2 linked regions of the Homo sapiens genome follow. The protein of the gene in region 1 interacts with the protein of each later gene in a pairwise test. Each region holds a gene or a part of one and is shown on either strand. Other genes may lie near its edges.

Evidence for each region. Proteins that work in one complex are often made in the same cells at the same time.
Region 2: the proteins of VEZT (region 1) and RMDN2 interact in a two-hybrid assay, tested with the Homo sapiens proteins (one large-scale study listed by BioGRID).

The regions. Positions count from the first base shown.
Region 1 is NC_000012.12:95,224,307-95,227,806, reverse strand, and holds part of VEZT (vezatin), read right to left. Parts: intron 1-3,500. UniProt on the Homo sapiens protein: Plays a pivotal role in the establishment of adherens junctions and their maintenance in adult life.
Region 2 is NC_000002.12:37,973,787-37,977,286, reverse strand, and holds part of RMDN2 (regulator of microtubule dynamics protein 2), read right to left. Parts: intron 3,248-3,500; coding exon 3,073-3,247; intron 2,076-3,072; coding exon 1,973-2,075; intron 1-1,972.

The DNA.
Region 1 (3,500 bases):
TAGCAAGGTTTAAGACAGATGACCTGAAGTTTCTGCAATTAAAATTTAAGGCCCGGTGCAGTCGTTCATGTCTGTAATCCCAGCACTTTGGGAGGCCGAGGCAGAACAATCACTTGAACCTGGGCAACATGTCAAAACCCACTCTCTGCAAAAAATACAAAAAATTGGCCGGGCATGGTGGCTCATGCCTATAATCCCAGCACTTTGGGAAGCCGAGGCGGATGGATCACCTGAGGTCAGGAGTTCGAGACAAGCCTGGCCAACATGGCGAAACCCCATCTCTACTAAAAATACAAAAATTAGCAGGGTGTGGTGGCATGCACCTGTAATCCCAGCTACTTGGGAGGCTGAGGCAGGAGAATCGCTTGAACCCGGGAGGTGGAGGTTGCAGTGACCCGAGATCACGCCATTGCACTCCAGCCTGGGCGACAAGAGCAAAACAAAATTCCATCTCAAAAAAAAAAAAAAAAAAGAAAAAATTAGTAGGGCATGATGGCACATGCCTGTAGTCCCAGCTACTTGGGAGGCTGAGATGAGATAATCACCTGAGCCTGGGAAGTGGAGGCTGCAGTGAACAGTGATTGTTCTATTGGAGGCCAGCCTGGTGACAGAGTGAGACCCTGTCTAAAAAACAGTTAAGAAAGCAACATCAGAACTTTAATACCTTTCTAAAGTAATTGGAGAATTCTTACTCTCAAAACACTGTAATTAATGATGACGATAACAGAGTAAAACAACAATCTTGGTATTTCATGCTTATTTTGTTAATATTCACATTAGACATAGTATCCATCATTTTCTAAACTTTGTTCTGTTGCTGTTTAGCCTGAGAGGTCCAAGACTGAGGTTATACTGTCCTTCTCAATTCAGCCTCTTAGAGTAGAATGATGGTAGAAGATTCTAATTAAAACAAATGATCTTATAGGAGGAGGAGTCAGGCTCCAATATAATGGAATTAACATTGAAAGTACATACGGAATCTAGCTCTGATAAAATGGGTAATCAGATTCTAGGGCAAGAAATGGGAATTGGGCCTGGGCACTTCACTCTTTCTTTCCTCCCTTAGTCCTTCTCTTATATTATCATCTTTCAGTGCACATCTAGTCCTCTCAGACTAAGAGGACTCAAAGTGATCACTGGAAGGAGAAATACAAATGACCCAAAATATAGTACAGTAAAATTTACAAATAATCCAAGAAACAGAAATTAAAACAAGATACCTCAAAGAGTTTGTTTTAAGGGAAGGGATGTTGTTGGAATATTATCCAAAACTCTGCATGATTTAAGTTTTTAACTTTCATGCAGCATGTAATTCTCTAGGTAAGTCTCAATACATGAATGACTCTGATTTCTATCTGAAGATCATTAAAATAACAGTATTACAACAAATATACCAAAAAAAAAAAAATCACAGTTAAATTTTCTTAGGGGAAGAGAGGTTCAGCCCTAAGATAGATATGGTAAATTGGCTTGGCTTGTTCAATCTCTATTCTATAATCCTTCTTCCAATGTATCTCTTGTGTTACAGAGGCAGGAAAGCTACATCTGAAATTTCCCAAATTATCTTGCAGCTAGGATTCTAGATATAAATCAGGGTTTCCCCAAGTAGGTGTATGGTGTAAGAGATTTGGAAGGTGGAAGAAGAGCAGAAGTCCACTTTTTGCTTCTTTGGCTTTTGTTTCAACTGTTCTTTTTTTTTTTTTTTTTTAAATAAAGGCAAAGTCTCAATCTGTCACCAAGGCAGAGTGCAGTGGCCTCATCAAAGCTCATCACAGCCTTGAACTCCTGGGTTTAAGCAATCCTCCTGCGTCAGCCTCCTGAGTAGCTAGGGCTAGAGATGCATGCCACCATGCCCAGCTAATTCTTTAAAATAATTTTTTGTAGAAACAAGGTCTCTCTATATTGCCCAAGCTGGTCTCAAACTGCTGGCCTCAAGTGATCCCCCCACTGCTGGCCTTGTTCTTTCATTTGTCTGTTCTCTCATTCCTTCTCTTCCCTCCATCCTTCTCTCTCTTTTTTTTTTTTTTTTTTTTTTTTTTTTTTTTGCTATGAAACAAAGCTGTGGAGGCAAAATGTTTCTATAGCAGTATTCCAATATGGATTCTCCAGCTTCTTGATAACACAGCTGCAGGTGTGGTAGAGACAGTGGAGAGACTCCAAGTTCCAATACCAAGGTATCACTTTGTTAGGTTATTGAGAGGCAGATGTGGTGATGGCTTTTGTTTTGTTTTGTTTTGTTTTGTTTTGTTTGAGACAGAGTCTTGCTCTATCGCCCACGCTGGAGTGCAGTGGCGCGATCTTGGCTCACTGCAAGCTCAGCCTCCTGGGTTTACGCCATTCTCCTGCCTCAGCCTCCCGAGTAGCTGGGACTACAGGCGCCCGCCACCAAGCCCGGCTAATTTCTTTTTGTATTTTTACTAGAGATGGGGTTTCACAGCATTAGCCAGGAAGGTCTCAATCTCCTGACCTGGTGATCCGCCCGCCTCGGACTCCCAAAGTGGTGATGGCTTCTAATTCCTGGATTGTAACTATGATCATGATCACGTGCTCTTGTCTTCATGAGCATATAGCAACTTTGATAGAGCTTGATCCTGTAGGCCTTCCGATGATAATCTAACCATTAATTCCCTATGTTAAATTCCTTTCTGCTTATGGCACATAGACAGGTTCCTGTTTACTGCATTAACAGGGGTCCTCAACCCCCAGGCCTGCACAGCACTGGTACCGGTCCATGGCCTGTTAGGAATACAGCCCGAGGCCAGCAGGATGGTGGGCCAGTGGGTGAGCAAGCGTTACTATCAGAGCTCCGCCTCCTGTCAGATCAGTGGCAGCATTAGATTCTCATAGGAGCAGGAACCCTATTGTGAAATGTGCATGTGAGAGATCTAGGTTGTGAGCTCCTTATGAGAATCTAACTAATGCCTGATGATCTCAGGTGGAACAGTTTCATCCTGAAACCATCCTCCATCTGGAAAAACTGTCTTCCACGAAACAAGTCCCTGGTGCCAAAAACCAGTCACTGTGCATTAGGATGTATGGGTGACACAGTACTTAGTATCTAGAAGTAGGGCTGACTCAGCAGAACCTGAAATATGTTCCACTGGCTGAGTAATCAAGTGGTAGATGGCAAGAAAACATGCCTTACAAGCTTTCAGCTCTTCAAAAGAAGGCCTTTCTCAGTCAGTGGCCTGAGATCTAAGTTGAATGAAAGTGGTAATAGGGGTAGAGGGGGTTACAGGTCTCATAGGTGGTAAAGCCCAAACACAGGAAATAAGATGGCTGCTCCTAGCCTTTCCCAAGAAGAATCCCGTGATAAGAGTTACAGGTTAGCTGGACATGGTGGCACCTGCCTGTAGTCCCAGCTACTTGAGAGGCTGAAGTGGTAGGATCACCTGAGCCAGGAGTTGGAGGCTGCAGTGAGTTATGATGGTTAACACTGCATTCCAGCCTAGGCAACAGTGCAAGACCCTGTCAAAAAAAAAAAAAAAGTTGTGGCTTTA
Region 2 (3,500 bases), on another chromosome or scaffold:
TGGGGAAAAGAAAGAGAGATCAGATTGTTACTGTGTGTAGAAAGAAGTAGACATAGGAGACTCCATTTTGTTCTGTACTAAAAAATTCTTCTGCCTTGGGATGCTGTTAATCTATAACCTTACCCCCAACCCTGTGCTCTCTGAAACATATGCTGTGTCCACTAAGGGTTAAATGGATTAAGGGCGGTGCAAGATGTGCTTTGTTAAACAGATGCTTGAAGGCAGCATGCTCGTTCAGAGTCATCACCACTCCCTAATCTGAAGTACCCAGGGACACAAACACTGCAGAAGGCGGCAGGGCCCTCTGCCTAGGAAAACCAGAGACCTTTGTTCACATGTTTATCTGCTGACCTTCCCTCCACTATTGTCCTGTGACCCTGCCAAATCCCCCTCTCCGAGAAACACCCAAGAATGATCAATAAATACTAAAAAAATTTAAAAAAAAAAAGAAAAAAATGTATTTAATATTGATGAATGTTGGAACACTTTACATAGATATACTTGGATTTTCTCAGTAGATATGAAAATAAATCCCCTTGTTCTCCTTGGTTAAGTTTTTATTTATGTTGAAATTAATACATCTCTTCTCTAGAATTCTGTTTTGTATATGGTCTGCAAACTGGAATGCTACAGAAAAACTCCACAAAGCTGATGATGAATATGCAAACAAGAGGGGGAAGCCCTCTCATCCTCCTCCCACTGGGGGAAACGAAAGCACAGAGGTCATTCAGCAAATGAATCTCCAAGTGGAAAAATATAATTACAAGGAGTTTGGTAAAACTTTCTACTTGGAAATAAAAATTACAGAGAACTAGACTGGGAAGAAATCTTTCTTGCTGTGTCTTCCTCTTGCTATCTTTTCTAGAAGAAAAGCCTGGAAATGAGAAGCCTTCGGAATAAATGAAGAATTCAAAAGATTTTGATGTCAAAGTACTATGCTGACATTCAGAGAGATGGCAGGTAGGGGCTTTTGCAAGGACACATTTTGACATCCAGTAAGAGTCAAGGTGAGGTATAAAAATAACAGTTTGATATTCTATCTATTTAGTTGTTCTTGTTGTGATGAAAAATTTCAAAAACTTGTAGAAAAGTATAGATGTCAGAATAATGAACCAACATGTAATCATCATTCAGCTTAGACAATTATCAAACAGAGTTTTTAACAAGGTTAATCTTGTTTCATCAAGATACATTTGGAAAAAACATTAAAGTCTGCGAGTTTATTCTTCGTAGTCCCTAGAGTTCTACATTACAGGAAGTAAGATGTGTTACTTTAACTGTGGTTGACAACTGCTGAAGACACTTGTCCTCTGCCTGTTATTGTTTCTCAAACACTGCCACTACATTTCTTGTCTAAGTTTTATAAAGTTAAAAGATGAAATTTAAGTTTTTTTCAGTTACCTATTCTAATATATTCAAATATTTCTGAAGAACATATACTTTAGCCCTAAAATGCCTTTCTGTTCTGAGAGTGTACATTTTTTTGTACCATAATATATTAAAATAGATTAAACATACTGGTTTTAGCTAAGATAATTTAGCTTTAGTTAACATTCACTAGTGATTTACTATAGATCTTTTTTTTTATTACACTTTAAGTTCTTGCATACATGTGCAAAACATGCAGGTCATAGGTATACACGTGCCACGGTGGTTTTCTGCACCCATCAACCCGACATCTACATTAGGTATTTCTCCTAATGCTATCCCTCCCCTAGCCTCCCACCCCAAGACAGGCCCTGTTGTGTGATGTTCCCCTCCCTGTGTCCATGTATTCTCATTGTTCAACTCCCACTTATGAGTGAGAACATGCAGTGTTTGGTTTTCTGTTCTTGTGTTAGTTTGCTGAGAATGATGGTTTCCAGCTTCATCCATGTCCCTGCAAAGGACATGAACTCATCCTTTTTTACGGCTGCATGATTTACTATAGATCTTAATTGCTACTTGAGAATAATCTTTACAAAATGCTTACCAATATTAGCATAATGTTTCTTTTCTTGTGTGTTTGTAGATAGTTCATACATGTCTCCATAAGCACGAGCAAATCGCCACATAAACTCTATTTCATCTCTAAACTGAAAAGAAAAGATGGAGTTGCCTGTTAAATTAACTTGGTAACTTGTCTATTCTATTCTTGTTTTCTACTGCAACTTTTTAAAAACTTAGGCAGGTAAACTGGTATTTATAGATTATTGAATCTATGTATATGCATATTTCGTGTGAAACATTTTTAATCCAAATACTCATGGCTAAGAAATATGACCTAATGTAGTGTTACATTTGGATCTTAAAACCAATTAATATTATCCAGACACTAGCTCCATCTATGCAGAGAAGAGATTTGATAGGCACCAAAATCTAGAAATTCTTCCTGAGCTGTGGCATCCTTTTCTTCTTTTCCTTTCCAAGTTATCTATTATCAATATAATGAGCATCTCAGTTAATATCTGTAAATTGAAAATGCATATACTCAAAAGAGCAGTCACTTTTTTTACTCAAATTACCTAAATATAATCCTGGAGAGCTATCAAGTTTTAGACAATGTGTTTAGAGTTGCTAAATCCTCAGACAAATAGAGATTTATTTCTCCATGGGACACTGCAAACTTTTAATTTTTAATTTTATTTTATTTTATTTTATTTTTTTTAGTGGTGGTGGTAAGAGCTCTGGACAGGCTTTTCTTATTCAGACCCAACACTAAACACTGCAAAATCAACAAATGACCATTGGTAGAAATAGCTTTGAATACCCATATCTGTCTCAAAATATTTGTTAAATATATAAATTAGTAAAAAAAAAAAATCAAATAAAAGTAAATCTGCGTAATTATAGCTCTGGTTCTCATTTTTATGACCTTAGAGTCTAATAAACTTTTACATTTACTTTTTTAAAATTTTATGCATCTTAAATAAAAAATAAATTTTAAAAAATTTTAGTCATTTTATAGAGAAATTTTACATCAATCATCAAAATGTGGGAACCATGACACAATTATTATAGTTATAACTGAAACAGATGGCAGATTAAATTAAAAAATGGAACTATACGAAGTGCTATTGTTATGTCTCTTACCTTTTCTTTGTGGTCACGAAGTAGTTCAAAACTCTCCGACTTGCCAGACTCACTCATACGTAAATGATCTACCTTCTGAAGAAGGACATCTAAATTTAATTCCTCTACACGTGTGTTAAATGCCTTAGGGACTGGAAAACTCTGTTCTTCTGTGTCAGTATTAGCTGTAATATACCTAAAATCGCAGAAATAATCATCAACTCCTTTGAAAGTTAAGTATAATAGCCAGAGCATTCCTTTTAAAATGCAAGTCAAATCATGCCCCTCTTATGCTTGAAACTCTGCAGTGGCACGTGCTTTCACTCAGAAAAAGCTCCAGTCCTAACAGAAGTCTACAAGTCCCTGCGCAATTTGCCCACGATCTCGTTACCTCTTTGATCTCATTTCCTACTACTCTTCTTATTCAAATACACACAGGTCACCTAGCT